2 separate regions of the Homo sapiens genome follow, and region 2 is linked to region 1. The links come from fine-mapping of genetic effects on gene expression. Tissue or cell type: whole blood. Region 1 holds a variant in brackets; the other region holds the start of a gene. All regions are shown on one strand. Distances are from middle to middle.

The links. PIP is the estimated chance that this variant, and not a neighbour inherited with it, causes the effect.
Region 2: OAS3 starts here. The variant in region 1 is fine-mapped to the expression of OAS3 in whole blood (TOPMed, PIP above 0.99).

The regions. Positions count from the first base shown.
Region 1 is chr12:113,065,526-113,073,628 of GRCh38, forward strand. All of the region lies in intron 2 of DTX1 (deltex E3 ubiquitin ligase 1), which reads left to right. Among named protein-coding and RNA genes, the nearest start is that of DTX1, 13 kb to the left of the region's middle. RefSeq lists enhancers at 1-301, 1,543-2,043. The variant G/A (reference allele first, on the strand shown) is at 4,734.
Region 2 is chr12:112,934,958-112,943,060 of GRCh38, forward strand. It overlaps OAS3 (2'-5'-oligoadenylate synthetase 3), which reads left to right and starts at 3,517. Exons shown (of 16, transcript NM_006187.4): 1 at 3,517-3,750; 2 at 6,613-6,895. The coding sequence starts at 3,574. RefSeq lists enhancers at 1,170-1,339, 3,136-3,305, 3,200-3,509, 3,473-3,642, 4,066-4,235 and 1 more and a silencer at 3,730-3,819.

The sequences.
Region 1 (8,103 bases):
CTCCTTCTTCCCTCCCTCCTCCTCTCCAGCTTCCTCCCATCCCCCGCCTCATTCTTCCAAAGGAGCTGCGGAGTCTGACCTGGAGAGGAAGGAGGAGATGGAAGCTGTGATGGGAAGCGTGGGGGCTGGAGTAGGGGAGGTGATGCGGAAGTGACAGGTAGCGGGGCTGTGGAGGGGATGGTGAAGAAGGTGGTAAGGAGTGAAGCGTGAGGGGTTGGGAGGGGAGATGATGGAGGGTGTGATGAGAGGGTGACGAGGAGGGGCCAGGACGGGGAGGCCACGGGGAGGCCAAGGGGTTGGGGCAGGACTGGTCACAGTGGCTCCAAGTGCCCATTCAGGCAGTAGGCAATGGGGTTGAGGTCCCTAACTCTCTCTCCAGTGTGATGTTCTTGGTGCATGGGGGTGCCTGGGGTGCTCCCAGGCCTCCGCCCGCCACCTCTGTCTCTCCCTGGGCCTCCATCCTTCCACCTGGCTCTGGAATCACAACCGGTGGTAGCCAGTCCCCAGGACAGCTCCAGTCCCTTAGATAGTCACCCCCATGAGCCCACCCAGCCTCTGGGTTGACACAGACACCCCCAGCAGCCCCTAGCTGCCTCTGGCTGACATCAACTGAGGACATGGGGCCTGGAACCTGGAAACAGCTACCTCGGGGAATGCTGTTGGTGAGGGCCAGGCTCTGGGTTCCCATCCCAGCTGCTTACTAAGAATCATGGGGTGTGTAGGCCGGGTGTGGTGGCTCACATCTATAATCCCAGCACTTTGGGAGGCTAAGGTGAGTGGATCACCTGAGGTCAGGAGTTCGAGACCAGCCTGGCCAACATGGTAAAACCCCCTCTCTACTAAAAATACAAAAATTAGTGGGCATGGTGGTGGGCGCCTGTAATCCCAGCTACTCGGGAGGCCAAGGCAGGAGAATCACTTGAACCCGGGAGGTGGAGGTAGCAGTGAGCTGAGATTGAGCCATTGCACTCCAGCCTGAGTAACAGAGTGAGACTCCGTCTCAAAAAAAAAAAAAAGAATCGTAGTGGGTGGGGAGATTTGTGACCTTAAGTAAACCACACTCCCTCCCTGAGCCTCTGAGCCTCTGTTTCCTCACCTGTAATATGGACCTGATGATAGTACTGAACTTGTGTGATTGTGGTCACTATTCATTCATTCATCAGGAGTTTCATGAGCACCTACTGTGTGCCAGGCACTGTCCGGGCACTAGGAATGTCACAATCAACAGGACAGACACAGAAGCCCTCAAGGTGCTTCTGTTCTGGGGGTGAGGGGTGGAGTGATGATGGGTGTGATGCAGGAGGCCAGGCGCCAAGGAAGTCCCAGCATATAGGACTGTCCCCTACCTTGGAGCCCAGGAGCTGCCGGGCTAGGAGCTGAGTCTCCTCTAGGTCCCGCATAGTTGTGTCCTTGCTCGGCCACCCTGGCCAAGCGCCTCTCCCTCTCTGGGCTCCTTCCATCATCCCTCTGGAGCTGCTCCAGGCTGCTACTGCTGCCTGCACAGACAGCAGTGGCAGGCCGGTGACGGGGTGCATGAGGGAGTCTGGCGCTGGGCCCTGGAGCTGAGCACCCTGAGATGCAGAACAAAGGACGAGGCAATCAAAGGAGGCTGCCAGGACAGTCCTGCCAGCAGCTGCAGCACAGCCACCTCTTGTCCCGATGACCGACTGGGCCTTTGTCCCCTCCCCCTCCAACTGCAAGCAGAGCACGGTAAGAGGAAGCACAGAGTTTACCTGGAATACCACCTTCCCAGGGCCCTCCCCCTGGCTGGGGTAAGCATTGCCCTCCCCAGCTTCCTCTGTTCTAGGGGGCGAAGGTTCACTTGTTCCAAGGTGTTACTCACCTGGCCCTGTGGAAATGACAGTCAGGGAGCCTGGGTCCAAGGCCTGTCTCTAATTTGCCAGGTGATCTTGCCCAAGTTTCTCTCTGCAGCTCAGCTTACCCATCTACACAAAGGCTGCAAATTCAGATGCTTACAGGGCCTGGGCAACTAATAGAAGTGTGTGCAGTGTCTGGGAAGGCAGAGGTTTTTTAACTGTCTTGCTCTCCAGTGCCTGGTATGCAGCAGGTGCTCAATAAATACTTGAAGGCATGAATGGGGCCAGCATAACTCAGCTCCTGCTCACTGTTGCCAAGGAGGCCAATTGTTGTGGCCCCACCCTTGGATATCTGGGGATTTCTGAAATCTGGACTGGTGTGAATCTGCCCCAATTTTTAAATGTGAGGCCATTTGAGGTGGCTCATGCCTGGAATCCCAGCACTTTGGGAGGCTGAGACAGGAGGATCACTTGAGCACAGGAGTTTAAGACCAGCCTGAGCAATGTAGTGAAACCCCATCTCCACCAAATAAAAACAAAAAAAAAAATAGCTAGACATGATGGCACACACCTGTGATCCCAGCTACTCAGGAGGCTGAGGCTGGAGGATTGCTTGAGACCAGGAGGTGCAGGCTGCAGTGAGTTATCATGGCACCACTGCAATCCACCCTGGGCAACAGAGTGAGATCCTGTCTCAAAAAATAAATAAATAAATAAATACAGGTCACTATTTTTTAAATGTAAATAGCATGTGAACCAGAACAAAACCATATCCGCCCAGCTTGCAGTCTCCAGCCTAGTCATGAGCAGCATTCAGTTAGGTTCATTCAGATGTATTTGGTTATTCATTCATTTATTCATTCATCCAACATTTTGCAAGGACCTACCTCCCTGCACTCCTGACCACAGAGGGATGCCAAGGTGACTGTAAACCAGCCCAGCCTTGGAGGGGCTGCCAGGCCCGAAGGAACACAGACACCTCCGCACCTAGTGAGCTATGTGCTTTGATGGGAGCATTGCAGGCGCAAGGTGCTATGGAGTCCCCAAGGAGCGAGTGGTTTGCCCTAAGGATGGCAGAGAAGATTCCAAGAAGACAGAGTGCTTGTGCTGAGCCAGAAGATTGAGAAAGAACTCAGCAGGGAGGCCAGTGGGGTGGGGTGGGTAGGACACTCTAGACAGATGGAACAGCATATGCAAATACAGAGGCATAACCGCACACACGGTATGTTCAAAAAATAGCTGGAATTTTGGTGTGGTTAGAGTGTGAGGCTGTGCAGACAGCTTGTGATGGGCTTCAGAGGCTACTCTAAGGAGTTTAGACTGATTCCTAAGGGCACTAGGGAGCTATTGATAGCTGTGGAGCAGAGGAGTGACACAGTCCAGCCTTGAGTCTGTGAAAAATCCCCCCGGCGCCATGTGAGAATGCACTGAACATTGCAAAGGGTGGACACTGGGACATGGGGAGGAGGCCCCTGCAACAGTCCAGGCTAGCACTCTGGTGGCATGGGCCAGAGGGCTGACAGTGGAAGTCGGGGAAGTTCAAATCCTGACTAGATTCAATCTTCACTTAGTAGCCCAGTGGCTATGTGACTCTGGACTTCAGGCAAATTGCTTCACCTCTCTGTGCTTCACTCAGTGTTTGTACAAGACAGTGATCGTAATAGTTATCATTATCATATGTTTATTATCATTATTATCATAACAACCTGCCCCAGTCATTTTGTGGCTGAAGAGTTGACTTACACGAAGCATTTAGAACAGCGCCTGGCACATAGTAGGCCCTCTGGGAGTGTTTATTATCATTATTATTTTATTATTATTACAATTATGCCATTTCACAGATGAGAAAGGAGCAGTTTGGAGGGCTCAGGCTGTGGAGGACTGTCCAGCCCTCTGTCCCCTCCCCCTCCACTTCCTGCTTTGCTAGGGATCTGAATCCCCTGCTGGGTGTGTGGGAAGCCAGGTGACCAGAAAGCCCCCCATACAGCCCATGGCGTATGAGTGCCCGCCTCCGCCTGCCAGCAGCCTCCAAGGTGGTAGCCTCTCCGAGTGCCACGCAGCCCTTCAGCCTTCCTTAGGCAGCACTGCAGACCCCCTCTCCTCCCCTTGTCTCCCCACCACCCTGGCCTGGCTTCCAGCAGACCCTGGAGAACCTGGGCCAGCTTCAACCACAAGGAAACCACTAATGGGCCACAGCTTAGCCTGATGAATCCCAGAGGAGAGTTTGGAGGGAAACAGAACACTGCGGGATTATTGATCATGGGGCAGGAGCTGGTGAGGCAGCCTGGATCCACAGGCTGCAGCTCGAATCCCAGCCCAGCCGGTGCCCCCAGCCAGACTTCCACGTCTTCTTAGGGAGCCTCAGTCTCCCCATCTGTCCGATGGGGCTAATATTAGCACACACACCCCTGGGGCTGCTGTGAGGACTGGGAGATGATGTGTGTGAGCCCCTAGCACAGTTGCTGGCACTGCGGAGCATTCGGTAAGGTGTTGGGTGCCGCTGTTGTCCTTGTTGTAGGAGACAGGTGAGCAGCCATGCAGATGCCAGCTAAGGGGCTATTCCAGAAGGTCACATAGCAATCCAGGGTTGGAACCTCAGCCATGTCACTTACTTACCATGCAACCGCTGTGCCTCAGTTTCCTCCCCCAGAACATGGGCTCATGAGACTAAGTCAGAGGGAACAGCAAATGAAGCAAGGTGGCCTTGTGTAGGCTCCAGCTGGACCACTCACAGATGGCATCCGGTGTGCTCCTAACTGCTCCGTGCCTCTGTTTTCTCGCCTCTAAAATGGGGCAATAACACCCCCACCTCCTAGGGGTGCTAAACACACTCTTTCGCTTGAATGAGCTAAACACAGCCTGGGGCAGAAAAGTGTGCTCTCTGAGTGTGGATGGCTGTTAGTATTATGACTTCTG[G/A]GTTGGTGAAGGATTCAGTGAAGTCTCTGACTGGGGCCCAGCCACTGCCCAACCCCCGGTCACAGGCCTCAGCCTGTGGTGGGACTCCCCCAGCCTGACAGGATGTCCCATGACCGCCTCCCACGTGCCCCCTTCCCGTCAGGGTCTGGGTGCCCCCAAACTGAGATCACTTCCCTCCGGGAAGCCACCCCCAAAGGGAGGGGTTCCCTGCTGGGCCTTGAAGCTGGCCCAGCCCAGAGAGGAACCGTTTAGAGGCTGAGGGACCAGCAGGAGGAAGGCTCGGGGGCTCAGAACCCTCCCCCTTCTCCATGGAGTCAGCTGCTTCTTAAGGCCAAGAGGTGGGGGCTGAGGCACCCACATACCCACCTCTAGGCAGTGGGTTCAGATCGGGACCATGCTCTAGGGCAGAAACCTCACACGGCTAAACAACGGAAAGTAAAGCTGAAGTAGTGAGCTCTCCATCGCTGGAAGTATCCTAGGCTGTGCTACCACTTGGTGAGGTTGAACCCCATGGAACCAGTCCAACCTGGGCCTGCCTTTACTCCACGAGTGTGGCATCATTCCCAGCCCTCTGCTCTCACCCTCCCAAGAGTTCACCTCTCCGGGCCTCAGTTTCCTCATCTGTAAAATGGAAATAGTCCTGGTCCCTCCCTGGAAGCAATGGTGTGAGGATGGAATGAGTGAGTGCAAGGAGAGTGCTGAGTGCAGCATGTGCCATACAGTAGGTGCTCAATAAATGCTAGCCTTGGTTTCCCTGATTCTCCATGATGGTCTCAGCCTCCAGGTTTCCAGCTTCCCTTTCTTTTCATCTCTCAAGCTCGTTCTATCTCTGACTCCAGCTCTCTTGGTATCTGCCTCAGTTTCCCATGTTGGCCTTGGCCTGTCTCTGACAGTCTCTTTGATCATGTATGTCTCTCTCTGTCTCTCTCCATCCTGCTGTCACCCTGTCTCTGCCCCAGGCATGAAGCAGTCACTGGCAGCTGTGGCTGTGGCCGCCCCCACACCCGGTCTCAGGGGCCCAGCTTGTGCAGTCCTCCAGCTGACACTGACCAAAGCCCCTTTCTCCAGTTCAGCTGGAAGAAGCCTGGAATTTTTCTGCCAAACATTTTTAAGCAACTAGGGAGGAGAGAGAAGGGGAAGACAACAAAGGCAGAGACACAAAAACAGGCCGAGGCAGAGGCACGGAGCCCATGTTTGTCACAGGCCCCTAACTGCCTGGGGGACGCAGACCCTGTGGCCAGCACAGCAGGGTGCCCTGAAGGCCAGAGTGGGGTGTGGTCTGCTCTGGGCCACCAGCCTGAGGCCCAGCCTCTTTCCCAGGCTGAAGAAACTCCAGCCCCTTCTTAGACCCATTGTTCTGGCTGAAAATCTAGGCCATGGCCACTGCGGAGGAGAAGGAGCATTTCCACCACTGCTCCCTTAGAAATCTTGAGATCGAAGTCCAGGCAGGTCACCAAGGAACCAGCTGCCCACCCCCTCGGCCTGGTCCATGGCCAGCCTGGGCCGGAGAGGCGGACGGATGGGCAGGCGGGCAGCGGCGGGCGCTGCGGGGTGCAGGGCCCAGCGGGGAGGACAGCAGCTGCCCTAATTACTCCTGCTCTCCAGGTTCCAATCTTGTTTCAAAAGGACTCCAGGGACACAGCCTTTAATAACTACCAGTAAACAGGCAGGAAAATCGATACCTGGTAAATAGAGCCCTGGAGAGAGGGAGGCCTGGGCTAGCTGGCCCTGACGGGCTCCCAGAGTCCTTTGCTGCAGAGCTGGCCAACGCTGATGTTGAGAATCCTCCTCCTGGCCTGAGGGTCCTCCCCAGGGACCCCTCGAAGCTTGGCCTCCACCCTGGGGGCTGCTTGCTCTCCAATCTCCACTCCCTCTCCATCAAGCCCAGATTTTCCTCTTTCCCACTCCTCCAAGTGCCAAGTAGGTTGCCCGTCTCGCTTGCAGATGTCTTCTTTGCACCAGGCTTTGTGCCTGGTGCTCCAAACATAGTTGCATATCTGACCTAGTAGTCTTTGTCCTCCCAAAAGTGATCTACCAATGAGGATGACTAAGAACAAAAACAAATAATGACAGTGTGAGGACAGACATGCAATAAAAGACTGCTGCGTTTGCCAACTATAGCAACAGAACAGAGAAGCCCATGTTGGAGGAGATGAGCACATGGAGGGCTTTGCTGGATGAATAGGAGTTTGCCAAGTGAACAAGGGCTGGGGGAGGATGAATGTGGGTAACATATGTAATATCAGCCATTGTAGCTGTATTCATTGAGTGCTTACTAAATGCTAAGTGTTCTGCTAAGCACCTTTGCCTATACGTTATCTCATTTTGTTTCCCCAGTAATTCTTTGGGGTAGATATTAATACCCCCATTTTATAGATAAGGGCACTGAGGCTATGTGTGGTACCAGCCAGGATTTGCACAAGACCTGAGAGATTTTCTTTTTTTTTTTTTTTTTTTTTTTTTGAGACAGAGTCTTGCTTTGTCGCCCAGGCTGGAGTGCAATGGTGTGATCTCAGCTCACTGCAACCTCTGCCTCCTGGGTTCAAGCGATTCTCATGCCTTAGCCTCCTGAGTAACTGGGATTACAGGCACGTACCACCACGCCTGGCTAATGTTTGTATTTTTTAGTAGAGATCGGGGGTTTCACCATGTGGGCCAGGCTGGTCCCGAATTCCTGACCTCAGATGATCCACCCGCCTCAGCTTCCCAAAGTGTTGGGATTACAGGCATGAGCCACTGCACCTGGCTCGACCCGAGAGACTTCTGAGTTGCTTGAATCACTTCACTCTGCACCTCCTATCCCGGCCCCTCCCCTGCCGAGCTCAGGATTTGGCACACAGGGGAAGTTAAATAAGGCGGGTTCCCATTGCTTCCCTTCCTATCCTGCACATTTTTCAGGTAATACACTGCCTTCACCTCACCAGGAGCTGAATGGTGGTACTTCAGGCACATCAGCCTTGAAGATCAGTCATCACAACCCCTCATTTTGCAGGTGGGGAAACTGAGGCCCTGAGAGGGGAAGACCAGCACACAAGAGCAGGTGGGAGCAGGATCCAGGGTTTTCTCTCTAACTCACCTCCTCCCGGGCCTACTGTGGAGGAAGCCCCATCACCAGGGAAGAAATCAATCTGCACACACTCAATTAAAATGATAAATCAGGCATCAGAGTGAGGCTGCCCCAGAGATGCAGGGGAAGTTTTTGTCTGATTGGCTGGAACATGGTAGGTGCCCAGGGACCTTATTTCCTGGGGCTGGGCTGCCAGTCCAACCTCTCCACCTCTTCAACCCCGCCCCTTTCATATCAATAGCCATAGCTCCGTGCCTCGATTTCTCCAGCTATTGGGGCCTGTCCAGTTGGCAGGGCACAAGG
Region 2 (8,103 bases), 130 kb before region 1:
TTTCTATTTGCTTATTAATTTTTTGTCCATCTTCTCTCGTTAGAATATAAATTCCATGAGAGCAGAGGCCTTTTCACTTATTCACCACACATGTTCTGTGCTAGACCAGTGGCTACCATAAAGAAAACACTGAATAAATATTTATTTATTTATTTATTTATTTTATTTTTGAGCCAGAGTTTCACTCTTGTCATCCAGCCTAGAGTGCAATGGTGTGATCTTGGCTCACTGCAACCATTGCCTCCTGGGTTCAAGTGATTCTCCTGACTCAGACTCCTGAGTACCTGGGATTACAGGTGCCTGCCACCATACTCAGCTAATTTTTGTATGTTTAGTAGAGACGGGGTTTCACCATGTTGGCCAGGCCAGTCTCGAACTCCTGACCTCAGGTCATCCACCTGCTTTGGCCTCCCAAAGTGCTGGGATTACAGGCGTGAGCCACCGCACCTGGCCTTAATAAATATTTATAAGAATAAGGAAAGGATCTGTTTTCCACATCTCATAAGTTGTCTTTTATACCTTTCTTTTCTATGTTCTGCTTTCCTGTAATCTCGAGTAATTTCCTCCATTCCATCTTCCAGTTTACTGATTTTATCTTCAGGTATATTTATTCAGCCTATCTATGGAGAAGGTTCGGTTTTTCTGTTCATCTTTGGTTTTATTTTGCATTATGTTTTCACTTCCAATGTGATAGTGGTGATTGTTGACTTTCATCACTGTTCTTATTTCATGGATATGATGAATAATCATGAATACAATGAATAATTATAATGGATATAATATCTAATCCCTCTGAGGATATTAATTATATATTTCTAAGACCGTATTAGTCCAATTTGTACTTCTAAAACAGAAAGCCACAGACTGGGAAATTAGTAAAGAACAGAAATTTACTTATCACAGTTCTGGAGGCTGAGAAGTGCAAGACCAAGGCTTCAGCAGGTTAGGACCTGGTCTCTATGCTTCCAAGATGGCGCCTTGAAGAATGTTGTGTCTTTTGGAGGGGAGGAACACTATGTCCTCACATGGCAGAAAAGCAGAAGACAATGAGCCCATTCCTCCAAGCTCTTTTCACAGTGGCCATAATCCACTCACGTGGGCAGAGCCCTCATGACACAAACACCTCCTGTTAGACCCCACTTCCCAACTGCTGCATTGGGGAGTAAGTTTCCAACACATGAATTCTGGGGGACAAATTTAGACCACAGAAGACTCTTTCTCCTTTATTGATTATTTCAGTGTCCTTACATGTGAGTTTTTATGTTCATAGCATTGGATCTCCCAAAATAATTTGGCACCTTTGGATGTGTGCTTTTTGCTCACTGGGGATGTTCTGCTTGTCTCCCTGTGAAGTTGGTACCTTCTTACTGCAGCTGGAGGCAGAGATGAGGAAAGGGGATGTGCCAGGAATGAGTCTTCTGCATACAGGACTTCCTGTTCTTTCCAGATGTGGCCAGGTATGCTGTGTACTTCCCTGCCTCTCTGCCCCACCCTCACTGCTCCCTCCTTAGGCAGGCACCTCTGCTGCCTGTTACTCAACACAGAAAGGTTGGGGCGGGAGACCACATGTCTTTAGAGGCTGCCATTACTATGCCAGCACAACTGACAACCATGAGAGTTAACCTAGGGTCCCTTCTTTTCCTTCAATCCACTGCCTGGAGCCTGCAGCTCCTCAGAGCCTTTCCACTCTGCATAGGTACCCCCTCCTTTATGTGTTTTGGCTGCAATTTCCTCCTTCATCCAGTCTCATATCTCTGACAGGGATCTCAGATTCCAGTTTACCTGGGACACCTCTGGTTAGGACCCAGCAACATTATTAAAGTTTTTCTATCGCTTTCCTGCCACCTCTAGAGGCCTGGGATGGACGTTGAAGGCTTATGCATATGTTCAGTCCACCATCATGACCCAATATTGACCCTTCTGCGTTCCATCTTCTAAAAATGCCTCAAATGTCCCGCCCCCTTGACTCCACTTTTTCTCAGTTTCCAACCCTGTTGATTTCCATTATGCTTTTAATATATCTTTGCTGCTATTTTAATAGAATTTTGAGCATGTGTTCAATCCACTATCTTGAATGGAAAGTTTCTAAAGTGGCCTGTGACTCAGGAAGAAGACTGTGATTAATGGGCGAGAATGAAAATCATTGCTCAATCCCTTGACTTAAATCCCCACCACAACACCTGACCTACAAAACCTGCCCATACTTGAATATTCCAAGTGATGCAGCATTCACTACTCAAAATATTAGCTGGTGTACATATTACAGACCCAGCATCTCTCCCTCTAGTTGACCATGACCTCTGAAATTCACACTCTGATCCTATCTATTTCCTTTCAGTTACCGTGCAGATGTCAGGAAGCACTTGTTAAGACTATTACCTGAAGTGTACTCAGAGGCAGAGTAAATGCTGGGTCCCGGAGCAGACAGGAGAGAGGACCTGGGAGTTTTTTAGTAAGATGGGGAGGAGGAGATAGGCTATGGCTTGGACCAGGCCTGGAAGAGAGCTCAGGTGTGCAGTCTCTAGGAACCCGGGTGGAGAAGCAGCAGGAAATAAGCAGAAAAAGGAGACAGGCCATGAAGATAGAAGCGCAATGGTCCTGGATTCAAATCTCCACTCTGCAGCTTATAGCTTACAGTCCGCTTAGCTTTGTGCCCATTCCAAGAGGATTTCCCTATTGTAGCTTTACAATGTTTTAATATGTAGTATTGTTGTGCAAGGTACCATCCTAAACTGACTGACTTTCCTTCCTCCTTCTCCTCCAAAATAATTTTTAATTCTTGCAGACAGACTTTAGATCGTGTGTTTGAAGTTTTTAAAGATGGAATTTTTATTGGAACTGCATTACACGTATAAATTATTTAGGAAGAGTTGGCTTCTGAAGAGGGCAGCTCTGTGGGCTTGGGCTGGGTTTGAATCCAGCCAGACAACTTTCCAGCTGTGTTACCTTGGACAGTTACCTAGTTCCTCTGTACCTTGACTTCCTCATCTGTCAAATGGGTGATGATAATAGCACCTACACCATGGTCGTTGGGAGGAGTCAGTGAGAGTCTCCAAGTGTGCTTTATTATCGTTGGTGGTGGTAGTGGTGTTTAGAACGCATCCCTCAGTCAGACAGCGAGGTAGGACTTCTCCGTTTATTAAATCCTGACCTTTTTTTTCCATGTAAAACCTGCACGTTTCTGAAATGCTCAGAGTACGTTACTCAGTATGTACCCATATGTTCTGTGGGTATACTTTGTTAGGTTGTGATTAGTTCGTTGGAGCTGGTGGTTGCAGGGACGGCTGGAAGCAAGGAGATGAAGGAGAGGAAGTCGTAGCTGGGAAGGGGACCAGGAAGTGGGTGTCAGGTCCAAGAGCTGCTAGAAAGAAACGAAACTGAAAGCAGGGAATTTCCCAAGTTTGGGGAAGACAGGAACTGCAGCGCCCCTCCCCGTTTCACGCCACGCGCGGGACCGAGGACCTAGGACCTGGCCAGCTGGGCGTGGTTCGGAGAGCCGGGCGGGAAAACGAAACCAGAAATCCGAAGGCCGCGCCAGAGCCCTGCTTCCCCTTGCACCTGCGCCGGGCGGCCATGGACTTGTACAGCACCCCGGCCGCTGCGCTGGACAGGTTCGTGGCCAGAAGGCTGCAGCCGCGGAAGGAGTTCGTAGAGAAGGCGCGGCGCGCTCTGGGCGCCCTGGCCGCTGCCCTGAGGGAGCGCGGGGGCCGCCTCGGTGCTGCTGCCCCGCGGGTGCTGAAAACTGTCAAGGTGAGGTCCCACCTCGGGGTCTTTATGTGTCCAAAGGGGAGTCCTGGGAGGACGCTTAAGCCTCACATAGGCTTACGGTGGGGGTGGCTTTATCCGCTTGTGCACCTCATTCATTTCTTTAACAAATACTTCCAATGTGCCAGCCCCGTGCTAACTCCCCCGAACATACGAGCCAGGTAGGTACTCTTAAGCCCGCTTGACAGATAGAGAAAATGAGGCACAGAGAGGTACAGTGACGTGTCCGATCCTGTAAGAGGCCCAGCCAGGATTCAAATCCAAGTAGCCTGATTCCTGCATCTCTACTCTCAGAGGCTGCTTCTTATCCATTCATTCACTCATTCACTCATTCTCCCAGTCATTCAAACAGACTGTGGGCCTCACACTATGCCAGACCTTAAGGTTACAGAAGTAATAACACTCCGCGTAACAGCCAGAGTAGCCCAATTTATTGAGACATTATCAAATAACAATGAAAATTATCTCATTAAATGAGTATTACCTCATTTCATCCCCACGTTCAGTGAGGCAGGTATTATTGTACCTGTTTTATGGATAGGGAAACTGAGGCTAGACGCTAAATTACTACTCTGAGTCACATCTTTTTTTTTTTTTTTTTTTTTTTTTTTTTTTGAGACAGGGTCTCGCTCTGTCACCCAGGCTGGAGTGCAGTAGCATGATCTTGGCTCACAGCAACCTCCGCCTCCTGGGCTCAAGTTATTCTCACACCTCAGCCTCCCAAGTAGCTGGCACTACAGGTGCACACTACCATGCCTGGCTAATTATTTGCATTTTTTGTAGAGATAGAGTTTTGCCGTGTTGCCCAGGCTGGCCTGGAACTCCTGGGCTCAAGTGATCCACTTGCCTTGGCCTTTCAAAGTGCTGGGATTACAGGTGTGAGCCACCATGCCCAGGTAATTTTTGCATTTTTTGTAGAGACGGGATTTCACCATGTTGCCCAGGCTCCGGGTCACTTTTTGTCACTTAAATACAGCCACACTGCCACTGTGATCCCAGGACACTCGCAGATTCAGGGAGGAGACAAGTCATGAGCTACCTTATCCTCAGGGTAGATTTGGGGGTGCCAGGAGTGGATTGATGGAGGGAACCTGGGTGTGCTAGAGGAGGTTGTCAGGAGAGGGAGTGAAAACGCAGAGTAGAAATGGCCTCAGAGCACCTAGTGGTTTCCTGGGGCTGACTCTCAGCTTGGGAGGTGGGGAAGGAGGAGACACTTGTCGCCTAGGAGGTGTGAAGTCCCGTTTCTACCTTGGAGATGGACAGGAGGGATTTCTGTGCAGCAAGGGAAAGCCCTGGCATCCTTAGCTTCCCTGGAAAGGGGTGGGAGGGGGTTCTGGAGCACAATCTCCCTGTGCTTTCATTGTCTCCTTTGTAAAGTGAGCACGGTGCAATCTCCCTGTGCTTTCGTTTCCTCTTTTGTAAAGTGGTACCTTCCTTCTGGGGCTGTGAGGAAGGTTCAATGAGATGAGAGTGTGCAAAACGTGCAGGAAGTGCCCAGCCTGTAATATTCCCTGTTCCCACTTTGTCAGCAGCCCCCAGATGGTGGGAGCTGGTAGTAAAAGGACTGGCATAATCATCGGGATAAGTAGGGGGTCCCAGTTTGAGGCAAGCCTTGCTCCTGGAGGGCTCCATCCTGGTTCTTGCTGTTTACTGGCTGTGTAACTCATTTCACCATCTGAGCCTCACTCCCCATATCTGCAGCCACATGTAACTACATCACAGTTGTTTTGTGTTGGAAGTGAGATTAGAGACGTCAGATCCCAGACACAGAACAGTGGCTCTGACAATGTTTAGGAGTTTCTTTTCCAAATCCTCAGGTTGGAAGCTTTGCCGAAAGAAACACTAATCACACAGGTCTCAGAAATTGAGTCATACCACAGTTCTGTACCCATTCTGAGCAAAGATTGCAAATGTGTGTTCTGCAAAGCAGAATTTGTTTTACCTGCGGTCTTGAGTTTTTAAAAAGTTAGTTGCCAACATTTAAAAATCATGGATATAGGCCTGGCATGGTGGTTCATGCCTGTAATCCCAGCACTTTGGGAGGCCAACGAGGGCAGATCACTTGAGGTCAGGAATTCGAGACCAGTCTGGCCAACATGGTGAAACCCCATCTCTACTAAAAATACAAAAATTAGCCAGGCATGGTGGCGCACACCTGTAGTCCCAGCTACTCAGGAGGCTCAGGTGGGAAAATCACTTGAACTCATGAGATGGAGGTTGCAGTGAGCTGAGATGGTGCCACTGCACTCCAGCCTAGGCAACAGAGTAAGTCTCTGTCTCAAAACTAAAAATAAAAATAAAATTACAAGTATGGATTTAGCCCAGCACGGTGGTGCATGCCTATAGTCTCAGACACTTGGGAGGCTGAGGCAAGAAGATCACTCGAGCCCAGGAATTCCAAGCTGCAGTGAGCTACAATCGTGTCTGTGAATAGCCACTGCACTCCAGCCTGGGCAACATAGCAAGACCCCATCTCTTTAAAAAAATGTAAAAACTAGCCAGGCATGGTAGCGTGTGCCTGTAGTCTCAACTACTTGAGAGGCTGAGGCAGGAGGATCACTCGAGCCCAGGAGTTCAAGGCCGCAGTGAGCTATGTGTTCCAGCCTGGGTGACAGAACAAGACCCTGTTTCTATGGAAAAAAAATCATGAGTTTACATGTTAAAATTGCTTCTCTTGAAATCTCGAGCCTGGCTACCCTGGGCCCACATTCCCGCGTGGCTTCAATGCCTACAGCCATGTGGCCACAGTCTCTCCCCAGCACACTTGCCTCACTCAAGTTGCCTGCCAGGTTGCAAGGCCACTAGAATTGGACAGTATGAAATTCTGAGTTATTTTTCTTTGCCCAGGGAGGCTCCTCGGGCCGGGGCACAGCTCTCAAGGGTGGCTGTGATTCTGAACTTGTCATCTTCCTCGACTGCTTCAAGAGCTATGTGGACCAGAGGGCCCGCCGTGCAGAGATCCTCAGTGAGATGCGGGCATCGCTGGAATCCTGGTGGCAGAACCCAGTCCCTGGTCTGAGACTCACGTTTCCTGAGCAGAGCGTGCCTGGGGCCCTGCAGTTCCGCCTGACATCCGTAGATCTTGAGGACTGGATGGATGTTAGCCTGGTGCCTGCCTTCAATGTCCTGGGTGAGGGGTTCCTAGACCATTCCAGGGTTGGGGGCAAAAGATCATTGGGAACAACACAGGACTTCCAATTCTAGCCCAGCCACCAACTTGCTGTTTGACCTGGGCCAGCCTCTACCCCTCTCTCAGCCTCAGTCTGGGGACTAAACATATTGGACTTGTGCCAGACAAAGGCAGAGAAACCCCAGTTCCTCCTGGATCTGTGGTCCTGCTGTCAAGATGCTTGGCCCTCCCACAGGCATCTGGGAGTTTCCCTCAGCCACTGCCTGGAGCGGTTACTGCTCAGCCCTTCCACAAATACTCCCGAAAGCTAAGCCAAGTGGACATGTGGCTAGCAGTAGGGGCCTGGGGACGAAACCAGAATTCTGCAAAATCTTGTATTTTATGTTGAAAACATCAATGTGATTTTTGTGTTCTCCTTCGTAATACACGTATGCTTGAGTTAAGATAAAAATAGGCCTCTGTGTCCTCATCTGTAAAATGAGGATAATACTAATGGGGATAATAGTAATCTTATAGAGTTGTCAGAAGAATTAAATGCATTAATATATGTAATCAAGCTTAGAAGTGTGTCTAGTGGGCCAGGCGCAGTGGCTCATGCCTGTAATCCCAGCTTCGGGAGGCCAAGTTAGAGACTGCTTGAGCCCAGGAGTTCAAGATCAGCCTTGGCAAAATAGCAAGATCTAGTCTCTACAAATAATAATAATTTTAAAAAATAGCCAGGTGTAGTAGTACATGCCTCCCTCTGATCCCAGCTACTGGAGAGGCTGAGGTGGGAGGATTGTTTGAGCCCAGGCAGTGGAGGCTGCAGTGAATTGTGATTTTGCCACTACAATCTGTCTGAGTAAGACTCTTCTTAAAAAAAAAAAAGAAATAAGAATGTCTAGCATGTGATAAGGGTTGTAAGAGTGTTTACTATTATTATTATTTCTATTATTGTTGTTGTTTCTATTATTATTGTTATTATTATTATTATTATTATTTACCTTGATGATCTGGGGGATAGCTTTATCCTTTGGGCAGATAGCCACATCCCCTATGCCTGGTACCCTAAGCCTAGTGTACCCACATACTGGGTACACACACACACACGCACACACATTTTTAAGACAGGGTCTCACTCTGTCACCCAGGTTGGAGTGTGGTGGCATGATCTTGGCTCACTGCAACCTCCGTCCTGGGTTCAAGCAATCCTCCCACCTCAGCCTCCC